Regions from separate parts of the Homo sapiens genome. Here region 2 is linked to region 1. The links come from fine-mapping of genetic effects on gene expression. A gene starts in region 1. The other region holds a variant in brackets. All regions are shown on one strand. Distances are from middle to middle.

Region 1 (8,917 bases):
CAGAGTTTCACTCTTGTCGCCCAGGCTGGAGTGCAGTGGCACAATCTTGGCTCACTGCAACCTCCACCTCCCAGGTTCAAGCGATTCTCCTGCCTCAGTCTCCTCAGTAGCTGGAATTACAGGTGCCCACCACCATACCCAGCTAATTTTTGTATTTTCAGTAGAGACCGGGTTTCACCATATTGGCCAGGCTGGTCTCAAACTCCTAACCTCAGGTGATCTGCCAGCCTCGGCCTCCTAAAGTGCTGGGATTACAGGCGTGAGCCACCATGCCTGGCCATATGTAAATTAGCATGTACTACGATCTAATAAAAATTTTCCAAAGCTAACTGAATGTCAGAATATTACCCAGTGTATTGATTCTCCAGGGGTGGGGCTCAGCAGATTCTGACGCCAATTCAAACTGCCTGCTGCTACCGGGGAACTGCTGAGAATAAAATTAGCCATCTCGTGCTGGGCGCAGTGGCTCATGCCTGTAATCACCGCACTTTGGGAGGCCGAGGCGGGCAGATCACAAGGTCAGGAGATTGAGACAATCCTGGCCAACATAGTGAAACTACATCTCTATTAAAATACAAAAATTAGCCGGGCGTGGTGGCGCGTGCCTGTAATCCCAGCTACTCAGGAGGCTGAGGCAGGAGAATCCCTTGAACCAGGTAGTTGTAGGATGCAGTGAGCCAAGATCGCGCCACAGCACTCCAGCCTGGCGACAGAGACTCCATCTCAAAAAAAAAAAAAAAAAAATTAGCCACCTCGAATCAATTACAATAATTTATTTACCTTTTTCTTTTTTTAAAGACAAGATATCTCTTTGTTACCTAGGCTGGAGTGCAGTGGAACTTGGCTCACTAGAGCCTTTACCTCCTGGGCTCAAGCAATCCTCCCATCTCAGCCTGTCCGGTAGCTAGGACCACAGGTATGCACCACCATGCCCTGGTTAATTTTTGTAGAGACGGGGTTTGGCTATGTTGCTTAGGCTAAGCTCAAACTCCTGAGCTCAAGCGATCTCCCCACCTCCACCTCCCAAAGTGCTGGGATTTACAGGCATGAGCCACCCACCTGGCCTATTTGCTTTAACTTATAAAGATTTAAAAACTGTTCATGGCCACGTGTGGTGGCTCGCGCGTGTAATCCCAGCAATTTGGGAGGAGAAGGCGGGAGGATCGCTTAAGCGCAGGAGTTCGAGACCAGCCTGGCCAACATAATGAGACTCTGTCTCAAACAAAAACAAAAACAAGAACAAAAACAAAACTGTTCATGTTAAAATTAAGCAGTCTGAAAATTACCTCTACTGACCCCTTGCGCCCTTCCCTAGAGATAACCACTGTAAACCAGTTTCCTTTCCCAAAGAAACCCTATTTATGTTTGCATGTAAATGTACATATATGTACATACTCTTTGTTATATAAATACAACACATATTCCCTTTTACATAAATGACAATACTATATACATTGTTCTTTACCTTCCCCTTCTGATACCTATTAAAATTACATTTCAAGATCATCAAATTCATAATTTTCAGCTATTCAGATTTAACATCCCTGAAATTAAACTTAAGCATAAAGATAACAGGGATAATCCAGTTCCCATACCCAGGAGAATAACGGTCACCTCAAGTCCACTATAATACACCAAGTCTGAACCCTGGACTCAACATGTTTTCAATAAAATGTTCACTTTAAAGTTTTGACAATGACTTAATAACCAGGGCACTATGTTTGATCCATGCAAAAAGATGTAAAATCTTCCGCTTAAGGAATCTAAAATTCTAAACGTTATTTGTGGGGTGGTTAATCTGCACCTCTCAGAAACAGACATGTCTTGTGCGCTGCCAACAATTTTACCTTTGGGTGAATGATGTAACTTTACTGTTCCCACAAAGAGTCTTAATTTTTCTGTACCTTGCAATAAAATCTACATGCATTAGATTTTTCCACGAATGGCCTACAATTTGATAAACACTTTCAGGACTAAACGGCTAGCAAAAATATTCGTTAAAGTCGTTATGCAGCATTTTAATTCCCTTCACTGATAACATGCACCCTGAGTATGGCTTCAAAGACCCACTCCTACGCGAGAAACGACCCGAAATGCTCTATATGCCTTCCTTTTAAGGGGCGGGGGGATCCTTTGATGTAACTCAACAAAAGCATACAGCAATTTCGTCACGTCACAAACATCTGAACTCGTTTACCGAAATCTAATCTGAGGCGTTTATCAGAAGCAAAGAAAAAATAAAATACGGCCCACGGAGGCCTAAGGAGTGAGGCATCCACCATTAATGACTCTACCGGGAAGCAGATATGGCCTTACGTTATTTCGCTAAAAATCCCAAGGCCAACCCTGCCAAAGAATCAACAACCCATTTTACAAACGAAATACCAGATTCAGAAAGACTAAGCAGGTTGCCAAGCTGGAGAGCTGGATCTGCCGACCTCTCTCCACCCCCCCCCGCCCCCCCCCGGAGCCTCAGGCCAACGGAATTAACGTTCCGCGTCCCCTCCCTCGCCTCCCGCAACGCCCGCGAGGGTCGGCTCCCGGGGCGCTGACAACCGCCTCGTGGCCCTCGGCCGGCCTCTGAAGAGGGCAGTGAGGGGCCCCCACCTGGGCGCCCGATGCCCAGAGCACTCTGCGCCCCCAGCCTGCCCCAGCCCAGTCCCTCCCGGCCGCGCGCCCTGACCGGTGAGCAGGATGTTCGGAAGCAACATGGTCCCCGCCGCGACGGCTTCGGGCGCCTCGCTCACGTGCCCTTTGCTCTACAGGGAGGAGCCGGAAGGGGCGGGCGGCAGCAAAAGCCCACGGCCCCAAAGGCCCCGAAGCCCACCGCGGCGCCCCTAGCCTGCCCCGGCGGCCCAGCCGCGGCCCACTGGTTACCTGGCTTTCGATGACACATTTCCGTCGCAAAGTTGGAGGGTGGGCATAACTCGGGTCGGTACTTCGGGTCAGGCAGTGCGCTGGATGCCTAAGTCACACACTCCTTCGGTGGTCCCCGCCCTTCGCTTGCGCCGACCAGTCTGGAAGGTCCCCGGGAGGCCGTACCTCCGAGAGGCTCGGCGTTGAGCCCGGGTAGGGCCAGGTGGCTGCCCTTTCACCTAGGGTAGTCCCTGGTCGCCTCCGCTCTTCGCCTAAAAGGGGATGCAGCTCCGGGAAAGTAAGGCCGCCGCGGTTGCGGCTATATTATGTATATGTCTTAGAGACGTGAGTCTATCTCTGCCTTCAAGCTTTCCTGGGCTCTCGTCGCTCCTCCTCCCGACCCGCCCATCCCATCTGGGGATGAGAAGATTGAGGGTGCAGAGCCCTGTCCTGCAGCGGGGATTTGCGAGCTCAACCCGGCACCCCACTGATTACAGGATTACGTTGGACGAATATTTGAGCTTAGTATTCCCTGTTCACTGTGTGGGGTGGTGGTGGGTCGGCTAGGAATAGTCTTGAAGGTCTACCTCTGACATCTCATTTCAGTAACCTCGCATCTTCAGGGACAGTTATCTGCTTTTTAAAGGAGGTAATTGTCAATCTTGTTTTCAAGAGTGAATAGAGACCTGACCGTGACAACAGTCTGCACCTTTTTTTGTTTGTTTGTTTGTTTTTGTTTTGTTTTGAGACGGAGTCTCACTCTTGTCGCCCAGGCTGGAGTGCAACCTCCGCCTCCTGGGTTCAAGTGATTCTCCTGCCTTAGCCTCCAGAGTAGCTGGGATTACAGGCGCCCACCACCACGCCCGGCTAATTTTTGCATTTTTAATAGAGACGGGGTTTCACCATGTTTTGGCCAGGCTGGTCTCAAACTCCTGACCTCAGATGATCCGCCCGCCTCGTCCTCCCACGGTGCTGGGATTACAGGCATGAGCCACCGCGTCCGGCCCCTGGTCTGCATCTTTTATTTCGAGCTACAAACTATATTTACTCAAATAGGTGTTTTTTTTCCACCTGTATACCTTTTGAAACGTCACAGTCTCTAATCGTGAACGATTTGGGGCGGAGGGCTGAACAATGTGTTTTCTAGTGTGTCGAGGTGTTTATAGGCTATGTGTGCCTCCAAACTGTAAAGTAGTCCAGTATACTTTCCAATGTATAAGTTTGTAGACCTTAAACTTTTCTTCTGGCTAACTTAAAATCGTTGAATTCACTAGTTTGCATAAACATTTAAGAATTTGAAAACACGGTTGAAAAACAGTGTTACCAAGAAATTTTGTAATAACATGTTCAAATGAAGACAAAAATTTTACAGTTTAAGACTTAAATTCTTCGTCCACAGCAAGTGAATTCATGGTATTTTACTTTTTTGGGAAATACTGGAAATGAAGACCTGCAACTGTAATTTGAAATAAGGAAAACTTTAATTTTCAGTATAAAAATTGCTCAAATAGAATTGCCTGATTTTAATGACAAAAGGTAAGTACATAGTATGTGTGGTTTTTTTGTTTTTTTTTTTCTAATACATCATTGAGTTCATGTGAAAAACTCTTAACACCACAAGTAGATTATTTGATACAGTTATAGTCATTAAAATTATTTTAGAATTTTGATTTCTTGTATCACTTAAATTTACTGTTCTTTTTCACTAGTTCTTGAGCCTTTATTGTATTGTTGATTATATCAGTATACATTTATTACTATAATTGGGCATTTACAGTTTTTCTTCATTTGAGGGCTTCTTCCCCCCCCCCCCCCCAGGTGAATTATAGTTTAATGTACTGCAAGTCCTAAACTACGGATGGGAACTATTACAGTTTATAATGTCAAAAACTTTTCTTAGACCAAAGGTATCTTCCACAAAGGTATGATACACTGGAATGGCCATGTAATAATTGCCTTAAAATAATTATAAATTTTTATATATATTCTTAATAACTTATTACTGCTATCAAAGTAATAGAGCCGAGTATCTATTGTAATTAATGATTTAAGCAAGTCTGGTAATAAGTTGTGAAACAAGTGTTCTCTAAAAGCACAACCTTAATTTTGAAAAAGTGTTTTACAGTCCCAGTCACAAAGGCTGAAAACATTTGAATGAAAGAACATAGAAGAGAGAAATATGAGTGGTAGTTGGTGTTATAGCTTAACCAAAAGCACTGCTTCTTAGAAGTAATGTAATTCAGTGTGTGAGTTCTCAGCAAGATAGGGGTTAAGGTGGGATGGGGGTCAGACAGTTTCATGCATGCAGGGTAGCTATTTCCCTAAGTGGTAGCTCTAAATTTTCTTTGATGTTAAGTAAGTTACTTAACTTTGCTGTTTATCTTTCTCTTTTTTTCAGTATATGGGAGTCCACATTTATGTAAGAAATGAAACTATAAAATGTATAAATAATTTGCAAATCAGAATTGCTGTCGAAAGTTTTACTATAATGAAAGATATTTTCATACTCTCAAAAATATAGAGGAAAGGGGCCAAGATTATAGTACCAGTCACAATCTTTTGATGAGGACGAAATGAATCAGGTAGCTATGACTAAAATTTTTTCCAGTGGTCTTCCTTTTTTAATCCACTGCCGATAATATTCCTAACTCTGTCTTAAAAGAAGAGTGAAGTGTGACTTAGCATTCGTAAAGTATTTATAAGCCCCAAATTGTCTCCCCTAAGCCTACTTTCAGCTCCAACTTCTGGTTCATTTTCTTCAAGAGAGGAACATTGTCTAATAAATAGCTCAACTGTGGCTGAGTATTCTTGAAAGAAATATATAACTTGGTTTCTTTTTGTTAGCCAGGCAGTAGATTCTACAACCAGATCTGAAGCTATATTTTTCTAGATTTATGCTATTAGAGTGTTAAAAAATCTAGTAAAAATTTCTAATTTCTAATTATTTGTAATTATTAGCTAATAATTTCTAATTATTAGCAAAATTTTTTTTTTGAGACAGGGTCTCACTCTGTTGCCCGGGCTGGAGTGCAGTGGGGTGATCATGGTTCACTGCAACCTTGACCTCCCGCGCTCAAGTGATTCTCCCACCTTAGCCCCCCAAGTAGCTGGGAATACAGGCGTGCGCCACCATGCCTGGCTAATTTTTTATTTTTTGTAGAGTTGGGGTCTCCCTATGTTATGCTAGCTGTTCTCAAACTCCTGGGCTCAGCAATCCTACTGCCTCTGCCTCTGAATGTGCTGGAATTATAGGTGTGAGCTACCACACCCAACCATTCCCAGGCATTTCTGAGTGACAGTTCCCCCTCTGGAAAGCCTGCCTCAATTATAAAAATATTAGTTGCTTCATACACTGAAGAAAAATATAATCCAGTCATAATTACAGATTACGTTATGATCTTTGGCCTATATCTTCACTAAGTCTTCAAGCTGATACGGATTATTTGGATGTATGAAATGGTTCTTAGTTTGTGAATGTATTAACCTGGCCAAGGCAGATATATTACTCTTATTGCTGTTTCTGTTAAAATATTATCATTTGTTTATTTTGTTTTGCTTTTTTTAATAGGTAATTTTAATATTTATGTTTCAATCCTACAGAGAGTTTAAAAAAATCATTCTAGTGTTTATGCTGGGAAGGTTACAATTAATAAAAATAAGTTTGTGTTCTTTACTCCTTTAAGGTCAAGTAGACAAGTATGCACTTGCACTTACTGTAAAGTAGAAAAACAACTATTACAGACAGAGTTTTATTTAAAAAGAGTTAATTTGTAAGATTTTTAGGCCGGGTATGGTGGCTTATACCTTTAATCCCAGCTCTTTGGGAGGCTGATGTGAGAGGATCACTTGAGCCCAAGAATTGTTTGAGACCAGCCTGGGCAACATGGCAAAAACCCATCTCTACAAAAAATACAAAAAAATTAGTTGGGCATGGTGGTGCATGCCTGTAGTCCCAGTTACTCAAGAGGCTGAGGCTGGAGGATTGCTTGAGCTGAGATTATACCACTGCAGTCCAGCCTGGGTGACAGAGTGAGACCCGGTCTCAAAAAAATTTTTTTTTTTTTTTTTTTTTTTTTTTTTTAAGTTTTAAAGGTTATAAATATATGAATATGTTGTTTCCAGAGTAGTTCAGTTATTTGGGGGAATAGATGGGAGAAAATGTGATTATATTTACATGATTTCTTTTTTTTTCAGGTAACAGACTGGGTTGACCCATCATTTGATGATTTTCTAGAGTGTAGTGGCGTCTCTACTATTACTGCCACATCATTAGGTGTGAATAACTCAAGTCATAGAAGAAAAAATGGGCCTTCTACATTAGAAAGCAGCAGATTTCCAGCGAGAAAAAGAGGAAATCTATCTTCCTTAGAACAGATTTATGGTTTAGAAAATTCAAAAGAATATCTGTCTGAAAATGAACCATGGGTGGATAAATATAAACCAGAAACTCAGGTACTGAAAAGCATGCAGACATATCTACATAATTTAATTTCAGGGTGCATAAGGGTAGATGGGAAGCAGAGGGATTTACATTTTCAGATTTTTTACTCATAAGAATCTTTCTAAGTGTTAGAAAAAATTCTGGATTTTTTTATTTTCCAAGGCTTAGATTTTTCTCAATAGTTATTCTAAAGTTGTATGATTAGTTGTCTTAGATTTAATTTAATCCCAACATAGAATTGATCTTTTTAAAAATTTTTGTACTAAATGTAATACTCCTCTCTACTGTCTTCTCAAAATGTATTTCTGAATTTTAAAAAATGTTATAACTGCAAACTTGCCAAAATTATCATACAGAGGTATCAACTTAAGAATATAATTTTTCCATAATAGTATAAAAATTCAAGTATAATCAAAAGGATCATTTTATTATATAGATTGTTACTGATTTGCTACTTCTTTTCGTTAATAATGCTTAGGTTCATATGTGCTGATGTACCAAAAAATCTTCAGTTAAGAAGTTTTGTTTTAAATTTGAAATTTTTGTTGTAGCATGAACTTGCTGTGCATAAAAAGAAAATTGAAGAAGTCGAAACCTGGTTAAAAGCTCAAGTTTTAGAAAGGCAACCAAAACAGGTAACTAAGAAATGTGTTTTTAAATATTTAACATCAAATATTTTTCTGACTTACAGTGTGTTGTTAGAAGTTAAAGTTTTATGATGATTTTGTTCAAAATAAGTCTAGATCTCCTGCAGTAGAAAGCTCCCTAGTGGGGCATGGTGACTCATGCCTGTAATCCCAGCACTTTGGGAGGCCAAGGCAGGAGGATCACTTGAGCCCAGGAGTTCGAGAGCAGCCTGGGCAACATAGGGAGACTGTCTCTACAGCTAATTAGCTGGGCATTGTGGTGCATGCCTCTGGTCTCAGCTACTTGGGAAGCTGAGGTGGGAGGATCGCCTGAGCCCAGAAGGTGGAAGCTGCAGTGAGCTGTGATCACACTAGTACACTCTAGCCTGGGCAACAGAGCAATACCAAAAACCGTAAAAAGCAAAACAAAACAAAAAGCGAAAAAGAAAGCTTCATGACTTTACTACTTCCAACTTGACTAAAAGACTCAGAGACTTTGAGTTTTCCCCTTTATTTGTAACTCTTTTTCTTTATGTCTTATTGTTAGCATAAAGAATCAGTAAACCAATTAGGGTGCTAGTGTATTTAGCACATCAGATTATCTCAGGCTGAGGAAAGCAGGCAAATTACATGTTAGTTTCTCTACTAAATATAGCCAAAAACAGTCATTATTTATTTTAGACTGATATTTTTTGTTTCACTTCCTTACTGCACAATTACCTTGAACCCCCAAGGTAGAATATTCTCTCCTTCCATCAGTCTCCCTTTTTAAATGTTTTTTATTTTGAGATTTTTCAAGCATAAAAGAAAATAGAATAATAAAAAAATATATATAGAATATACTCATTGTTTCCCCCTTAAGTATTTTAAAGTAAATTATAAACATTGTGACATTTCAGTTAGACTTTTAGATACTTCAGTATGTCTGTTTTTTTAAAAAAATGATTTTCCTAATTAATTATGCATACCATTATTCTCTCTAACAAAGTTAACC
Region 2 (8,987 bases), 28 kb after region 1:
CTTACCAGTACAACAGCCACCAACCACATGTAGCTATTTACATTTAAATTTAAAAATTCAGTTCCTCAGTCATACTAGCCACATCTCCAGTACTTGATAACTGCATGTGGCTGATGGCTACTTTATTGAACAGCCCAGATACAAAACATTTCCATCATTGCAGGGCGTTCTGTTGGACGACACTATTTTGATACGTTAATATTTCTGTGTGCTATAAATATTAAAATAAGGCCGGGCTCAGTGGGTCACACCTGTAAACCCAGCACTTAAGGAGGCCGAGGCAGGTGGATCACTTGAGCTCATGAGTATGAGACCAGCTGGGGCAATGTGATGAAACCCCATCTCTACAAAAAAATACCAAGAAAATTGTTTGGGTGTAGTGGTCCCAGCTACTCAGGAGGCTGAGGTGGGAGGATGGCTTGAGCCTGGGAGGCAGAGGTTGCAGTGAGCTGAGATCACACCACTGCACTCCAGCCTGGGCAATAGAGCTGGACCTTGTCTCAAAAAATTAAAAAATTGAAATAGCAGTAATAAGTAAAATTAGGAAAGACACAGAAAAACCATTTATGTTATAGAGCTTCATTACTCAGCAGTTGAATTTGCTTAACTTTTAAAATAATTGTTTCTTTCTTATTTTGAAATTTTCCATCCTATAAATAAATTAAAAGGATAGTACAATGAGCCAGGAGTGGTGGTTCCTGCCAGTAATTCTGCACTTTGGGAGTCCAAGGCAGGAAGATCACTTGAGGCCAGAAGTTTGAGAACAGCCTGGGAAACACAGCGAGACCCCATCTCTAGAAGAGATTTTAAAAATTAGCTGGGTATGGTGGCATGCACCTGTAGTCGTAGCTACTTGGGAGGCTGTGGTGGGAGAATCACTTGAGCCCAGGAGTTTGAGGTGGTAGTGAGCTGTGATCGTGCCACCACATTCCAGGCTGGGCAACAGACTGAGACCCTATTTTAAATAATAATACAAAATAACGAAAAGAGTATAATTGACTTGTTTGTGACACCAAGGATAAATGCTTGAGGTAATGGATACCCCATTTAACTTGAGGTAATTATTACACATTGTATGCTGGTATCAAAATGACCCCTGTACCTCATAAATATATACAGCTACTAAGTACCCACACAAATTAAAAATTAAAAAAAAATGATAGTACAATGAATAGCTGCATATCCTTAACTTTTGTTTAGCAGTTTGCATATTTTGCCACTTTTTCTTAATCTCTCTATATATTTACGTATTTGTTTCTGGCTGAATAATTGGAAAGTATTAGTAATTGCGAACATCGTGACACTTAAGCAGCATAAGGACATTGTTCTATTACAACTACCATAGCATTATCATACCCCATTGAAACTAAAATATAACTAGTTGATATAACTGGCCTCTCAAAGTGCTGGGATTACAGGCGTGAGCCACTGCGCCCAGCTGCATAGTCATATTTTAGTTTCAATTATATTTTAGTTATATTAACTAATTAGTTACATTAACTAATTAGTTATATAATTAAGTTAACTTTCCAGAGAAACTTCACACTAATCTAGCAATATATTGTCCCTATTCAGATTTCCTCATTTGCCTCAAAAATGTATTCAAAGTTGTTTCCTCCACCCCTGTCCAAGATCCAGTCAGGGTTTACACATTTAATTTGATGGCTATGTCCCAGTGGAATTTGCTTTAGATAAGTTTATAGTGCTGTTATTTATAGGGCTGTAGTGATGTTGAAGAAAGTGAACACATAGAAACTAAATACGGTTAGTATTTTTGTATATATCAGGAATACCAGTAATGCTCTTTTATAAATCTATTTTCTTTCACATCTTGTCTCATTTGTTAGACACGCTCTTTACTCAGGGAATATAGCACATCTATAGCTACGAGAGGTGTGATGCATTCCAACAAAGCCCGAGGATATGCTCATTGCCAAGGAGGAGGATCAAGTTTTCGACCCTTGCACAAACCTCAGTGGTTTCTAATAAATAAAAAGGTAAAAAAAAAAAAAAAAATTCTGTACTTTCAATATGTGAACTTTATGGTACGTGAATTATAACTCAAAGCAGTTATTTTCTTTAAAACATAACAAAGGAAAAAATATTTCATTTTTAATAAAATAGTTGCTAAGGTCCACAATTAGATTCTGAGTTTTTATAAAACATAAAAAGGTGACTCTTAAATGCTTGTACAATTTTTTAAGGGAAAAAAGACCATCACAATTTGAAAATATTAGTTCAGTTTTATTGGAATCAAAGCGTAGTTACATTTTATTTTATTTTTTATTTTTTTATTTTTTGAGACGGAGTTTCGCTCTTTTTGCCCAGGCTGGAATGCAATGGCATGATCTCGGCTCACTGCAACCTCCGCCTCCCGGGTTCAAGCAGTTCTCCTGCCTCAGCCTCCCAGGTAGCTGGGATTACAGGCGCCAGCCACCACGCCTGGCTAATTTTTTGTATTTTTAGTAGAGACAGGGTTTCACCATGTTGGCCAGGTTGGTCTCGATCTTTGGACCTCATGATCCTCTTGCCTTGGCCTCTCAAAGTGCTGGGATTACAAATGTGAGACACCATGCTCGGCCATATTTTATTTTTTATTTTTTATTTTTATTCAGACAGAGTCGTTCTCTTGCCTAGGCTGGAGTGCAGTGGTGCCATCTCTGCTCACTGCAACCTCTACCTCCTAGGTTCAAGCAATTCTCCCACCTCAGCCTCCTGAGTAGCTGGGATTACAGGCATCTACCTCCATGCCCAGCTAATTTTTGTATTTTTAGTAGAGATGGGGTTTTGCCATGTTGGCCAGGCTGTTCTTGAACTCCTGACCTTAAGTGATCTGCCCGCCTTGGCCTCTCAAAGTGCTGGGATTACAGGCATGAGCCACTGTGCCCAGCTGCATAGTTATATTTCAGTTTCAATTAAAAACAAACTTTAGGGCCAGGCATGGTGGCTCACACCTGTAATCCCAGCACTGTGGAAGGCCAAAACAAGAGGATCACTTGAGCCCAGGAGTTTGAGACCAGCCTGGTCAACATAGTGAGATCCCATATCTACAAGAAAAAGAAAAAAATTGTAAATAAATAAACCCTAGTTCAACCTGAGAATGCTGATTGGAAAATAGAAATCCCTAGTATATAAAATTTCAGTTAGGCAGGAGGAATAAGTTTTTTTTGTTTTTGGTTTTTGAGACGGAGCCTCGCTGGCCAGGAGGAATAAGTTTTAAGTTCAAGAGATATGTTGTATAACATGGTGACTATTAACAACAATGTGTCATGTATTTGAAAATCATGGCCGGGCATGGTGGCTCACGCCTGTAATCCCAGCACTTTGGGAGGCTGAGGCGGGCAGATCACGAGGTCAGGAGATGGAGACCATCCTGGCTAACACGATGAAACCCTGTCTGTACTAAAAATAAAAAAACTTAGCCGGGTGTGGCGGCGTGCGCCTGTAGTCCCAACTACTCTGGAGGCTGAGGCAGGAGAATGGCGTGAACCCAGGAGGCGGAGCTTGCAGTGAGCTGACATGGCGCCACTGCACTCCAGCCTGAGAGACAGAGCGAGACTCCATCTAAAAAAAAAAAAAGAAAATCACTAAAACGGTAGATTTTAAGTGTTCTCACCACACACAAAAAATATATGTATGTAAGGTAATGCATATGTTAATTGGCTCAATTTAGCCATTCTACCATATATACATATTTCAGAACATCATGTTGTATACCTATAAATACATACAGAGCTTATTTGTCAATTTAAATTAATCAAAGAAAGGAGAAGAAATCTTGGCCTTGCCTCTATATGGACAAGGTATTCACCTAATGTGTTCTTACTCTCCACAGCTAAAAATGTAGATGATTGAATTATTTAGAGGTAAAAAATGGGAGGCACACAAGTTGAAAACAAAATACACAACAGTTTTCAAAATGAATTGCCAATCTTTAAAAATCAGACTAATGATTAAAAGTCAGATATGAATTTCGGCTGGGCGCTGTGACTCACACCTGTAATCCCAGCACTTTTGGGAGGCTGAGGCGGGCAGAACACAAGGTCAGGAGTTCGAGACCAGCCTGACTAACATGGTGAAACCCCATCGCTACTAAAAATACAAAAGTTTGCCAGGTGTGGTGGTGCGCTCCTGTAATCCCAGCTACTCAGGAGGCCGAAGCAGGAGAATCGCGTGAACCCGGGAGGCAGAAGTTGCAGTGAGCCGAGATCATGCCACTGCACTCCAGCCTAGGCGACAGAAAAAGACTCTGTCTCAGAAAGAAAAAAAAAAAGTTAGATATGAATTTCTAGCTTCAGAATTTCTGGAATCTCCTGGTTAAAAAAAAAAAAAAAAAAAAGAGGCCAGGTGCAGTGGCTCACACCTGTAATCCGAGCACTTTGGAAAGCTGAGGTGGAAGGATCACTAGAGCCCAGGAGTTTGAGACCTGCCTGGGCAATATGGTGAAACCCCATCTGTATAAAAAAAAAAATAATAAAAAAATTAGCTGGGTGTGGTGGCAAACACCAGGAATTTGAGACCAGCAATATAGTGAGATCCCATATCTACAGGAAAAAGGAAAAATTTTTTTTGTTTTTCCTACCTAGTCCCAGCTACTTGGGAGGCTGAATTGGGAGGATTGCATAAGCCTGGGAGGCAGAGTTTGCAGTGAACAATGATTGTGCCACTGCACTCCAGCCTGGGCAACAGAGTGAGACCCCCATCTCTCAAAAAAATGAAAGTGAAGTATAACACTGGCTCATATTTCTGCGTAGCAACAATCACCTCGCCATGTAGCATCTGCCCCTTTGAGATGAGAGTAGTAGGCACCACTGTCCCCAGCTGGTTCATTCACTTATATTGCCTGCTTGACTTCTGTAATATCTGAATTCGTGACCCCTGGACTGGGTCGTCTCTGAGATGTCTTCCAGTTCTAAAATCATACAGCTGAAAATTACCCTATAATTTATTACCTAGGACATTTTTTCCAACAGATTTCTTGGAGAATTTAATGACTTTTAAGCAATTTATATCTCATTGACTTGCTTTGTCTTTTATAGCATATATATTAATTTTGCATTGTTGCTGCATATAAATTATCTAAGACTGTTAGCTTCTTGAAGGCAGGGATTGTGCTTTTCTCTTGCTCAGCATAACGTGTTGACTAAAGAAAACAAATTATTTCATTGAAAACTATTTTCGTGTAATTTATGATGTGTGTGTGCTCATAAACAATTCCTTTGAGTTTTAAATTTGGTTTTCTTATACATTCAATGTCTTTTAAAAATTGTTGTTTATTAAATGTGGAATAGTTGTGTAGGTAAAATACTTTATTAAACGATGCTAAAAAAACTATAAAGGACTACTTAAATAAGCTATTAAAAGTATATTTGTGATATATAAACCCACAAGTTAATATAAACTTATTGTGTAAGTTTATATAATAAACTTAGTTTGTCTAGGAATACATATTTTTAATTTCATTTTTCCTTTCATCTTTTTTTTTTCTTTTCTATACAGTATCGGGAAAATTGCCTGGCAGCAAAAGCACTTTTTCCTGACTTCTGCCTACCAGCTTTATGCC[T/G]CCAAACTCAGCTATTGCCATACCTTGCTCTACTAACCATTCCAATGAGAAATCAAGGTAATAACATAGGTTTTTCTTTTCTTTTAAGAAGTAGGGTTTATTTATTTATTTATTTATTTTATTTTTTTAGGGGGAGTCTCTACTGTCCAGGCTGGATTGCGGTGGCACGATCTCGGCTCACTGCAACCTCTGCCTCCTGGGTTCAAGCAATTCTGTTCCCTCAGCCTTCTGAGTAGCTGGGACCACAGGCACGCGCCCCCACACCTGGCTAATTTTTGTATTTTTAGTAGAGATGGGGTTTCACTGTATTAGCCAGGATGGTCTCGATCTCCTGACCTTGTGATCTGCCTGCCTCGGCCCCCCAGAGTGCTGGGATTACAGGTGTGAGCCACCGCACACGGCCAGAAGTAGGGTTTTATAGCAATATCTTTTTGTGGGCCAATTTATTGCTATATGCAGTGAGATACTTTTTTTCCTTTTATTTTTTGATCCAGATAATTCTGGATCCTTTATGTTTTTTTTTTAAAACGCATCAAACAGGCCAGGTGCAGTGGCTCATGCCTGTAATCTCAGCACTTTGGAAGGTCAAGACAGGGAGATCACTGGAGGTTAGGAGTTCGAGACCAGCCTGGCCAACATGGTGAAACCCTGTCTCTACTAAAAATAAAAAAATTAGCCAGGTGTGGTGGCATGCGCTTGTAATCCCAGCTACTCGGGAGGCTGAGGCAGGAGAATCACTTGAACCCAGGAGGTGGAGGCTGCAGTGAGCCAAGATCGCACACCTGCACTCCAGGCTGGGTGACAAAGTGAGGTCTGTCTCAAAAAAACAAAAAGCATCAGATGATACAGAAATATATAAAGAGCCGAACGTGGTGGCTTATGCCTGTAATCCCAGCACTTTGGGAGGCCAAGGCTGGGAAACCCCATTTCTACTAAAAATACAAAAAATTAGCCAGGCGTGGTGGCACGCGTCTGTAATCCCAGCCACTCGGGAGGCTGAGGCAGGAGAACCTTCAACCCCGGAGGCGGAGGTTGCAGTGAGCCAAGATCAGGCCATTGCACTCCAGCCTGGGCGACAGAGCAAGACTGTCTCAGAAAAAAGAAAAAAGTTTCTAAAGTAAAAATTGAAAGTACTTCCCCTACAACCACAGGTTGCTTTGACAGATTAATGTAAATTCTTCCAGATACTCTTCTGTGGATGTAGAAACATGCAGAATGAGGCAAGCTTTAATTTGCTTATGTCACTTACTGTGGATAGCCTTTCATATCTTATAAGTTAATGTCAGAGCAGCAATCTCATTTTTTTCCAATTTGTAAACATTTTATTTAACCTTATGATGGATATTTTGGTGGATTTCAGTATTACAAAAATGCCTATTAATAGTATTTTTCATTATATTTCTGTTACGAAATTATAATGCTACAAACATTACTATGCCTGTGGCAGTATACATCTGCACAAGTTTTGAAAATGTTATGCATTCATAGGCAAAAATGGGATAACTTTTGGGCAGTGGTCATGATTAATCTGTTGATCAGAATCCAGAGATTGCCCTTCTCCTTGCCAATTGCTTTAAGAGTACACTAGTTTTTGGCCGGGTGCAGTGGCTCATGCCTGTAATCCCAGCACTTTGGGAGGCCAAGACGGGCGGATCACAAGGTCAGGAGATCGAGACCATCCTGGCTAACATGGTGAAACCCCATCTCTACTAAAAATACAAAAAAAACCCACAAAAAACAAAAAAACCAGGCCTGGTGGTGGGTGCCTGTAGTCCCAGCTACTTGGGAGGCTGAGGCGGGAGAATGGCATGAACCTGGGAGGCGGAGCTTGCAGTGAGCCGAGATTGCACCACTGCCCTCCAGCCTGGGCAACAGAGCAAGACTCTGTCTCAAAAAAAAAAAAAAAAAAAAAAAAGATTACACTAGTTTTTAAACTTTTTGTTTTTTTTTTTGAGATGGAGTTTCACTCTTGTTGCTGAGGCTGGAGTGCAATGGCATGATCTCGACTTACTGCAACCTCTGCCTCCCAGGTTCAAGCGATTCTCCTGCCTCAGCCTCCAAAGTAGCTGGGATTACAGGCATGTGCCACAACACCCGGCTAATTTTTTTTGTATTTTTAGTAGAGGTGGGGTGTCACCATGTTGGCCAGGCTGATCTCGAACTCCTGGCCTTAAGTGATCTGCCCACCTCGGACTCCCAAAGTGCGGAATTACAGGCGTGAGCCACCGCGCCCGGCCACTGGTTTTTAAACTTTATTTTGAAATTATTTCAGGCTGGGCGCAGTGGTTCACGCCTGTAATCCCAACACTTTGGGAGGCCGAGGCGGGCGGATCACGAGGTCAGGAGATCAAGACCATCCTGGCTAACCCCGTCTCTACTAAAAATATAAAAAATCAGCCGGGCACGGTGGCAGGTGCCTGTAGTCCCAGCTACTCAGTGGGCTGAGGCAGGAGAATGGTATGAACCCGGGAGGCGGAGCTTGCAGTGAGCTGAGATCACGCCACTGCACTCCAGCCTGGGAGACAGAGTGAGACTCTGTCTCAAAAAAAAAAAAAAATTATTTTAAATGTAAGGATGCAAGAATAGTACAAAAAATTCTTGTATATCCTTCACTAAGTTTCCTGATTATTACATTTTTTACCATATTTGCCTGATTATATTCTCTCTCTTTATAAGCATGCACATATATGTATTATTTTGCTAAACTAGTCTTGAGTAAATTGCAGGCATGATATCCCATTATTCTTAAAAACTTAAGTCTGCACTTGCCAAAAACAAGGACATTTTCCTGCATAACCACAGTGTGCAATCAAATCAGGAAATTAACTTAATACCGTTTATTTTATAGTCCCCATTCAAATTTTTCCAATTGTCCTAATAATATCCTTTTTTAATTATTTTTAATTAATAGAGATGGGATCTCGCTTTGTTGGCCAGGTTGGTCTTGAACTGCTGGCCTCAAGCAATCCTCTTGCCTCAGCCTCCCAAAGGGCTAGGATTATAGGCACAGGCCACTGCACCCAGCCCTAATAATCTCCTTTGTAAAATGATAACTCCCCATTTCTTGTCCAGAATCCAATGAAAGATAACCTGATGCATTTAGTGATTTAGTTTCCGTGTGTTTTTAGTCTCCCTTGATCTGGAACAGTTTTGTAGTCTTTCTTTGTCCATGACATTTTAGAGGGATATAGGACAGTTACTGTACGATCCCTCAATTTGGGTTTGTCTGGTGATTCCTCATTATTGGATTCAGGATATGTATTTTTTTGGCAGAAATACCACAGAAGTGATCTTAAAAAAAATTGGCAAGGAGAGGAAAGATATCTGGATTCTGACCAACAGATTCATCATGTCCACTGCATAAACGTTATTTTTGCCTATGAATACACAACATTTTAAACACTTTAAGTATCAGTACTTACAA

Direction of the effects. Alleles are on the strand shown, and positions count from the first base shown. SD is a standard deviation of normalised expression in the study named.
In carriers of allele T in region 2, the expression in skeletal muscle of the gene that starts at base 3,039 in region 1 tends to be higher than with G alone (moderate effect, 0.66 SD a copy in FUSION).

What was found. PIP is the estimated chance that this variant, and not a neighbour inherited with it, causes the effect.
Region 2: its variant is fine-mapped to the expression of RAD17 in skeletal muscle (FUSION, PIP 0.95).

Annotation. Positions count from the first base shown.
Region 1 is chr5:69,366,780-69,375,696 of GRCh38, forward strand. RAD17 (RAD17 checkpoint clamp loader component) reads left to right here and starts at 3,039. Exons shown (of 19, transcript NM_133338.3): 1 at 3,039-3,154; 2 at 4,256-4,392; 3 at 4,675-4,778; 4 at 5,255-5,438; 5 at 7,051-7,308; 6 at 7,849-7,932. The coding sequence starts at 5,430. It overlaps AK6 (adenylate kinase 6), which reads right to left and starts at 2,741. Exons shown (of 5, transcript NM_016283.5): 1 at 2,684-2,741. The coding sequence starts at 2,711. TAF9 (TATA-box binding protein associated factor 9) reads right to left here and starts at 2,741. Exons shown (of 3, transcript NM_003187.5): 1 at 2,684-2,741. RefSeq lists an enhancer at 3,293-3,842.
Region 2 is chr5:69,394,550-69,403,536 of GRCh38, forward strand. It overlaps RAD17 (RAD17 checkpoint clamp loader component), which reads left to right. Exons shown (of 19, transcript NM_133338.3): 16 at 1,848-1,997; 17 at 5,500-5,620. Among named protein-coding and RNA genes, the nearest start is that of MARVELD2, 16 kb to the right of the region's middle. The variant T/G (reference allele first, on the strand shown) is at 5,564.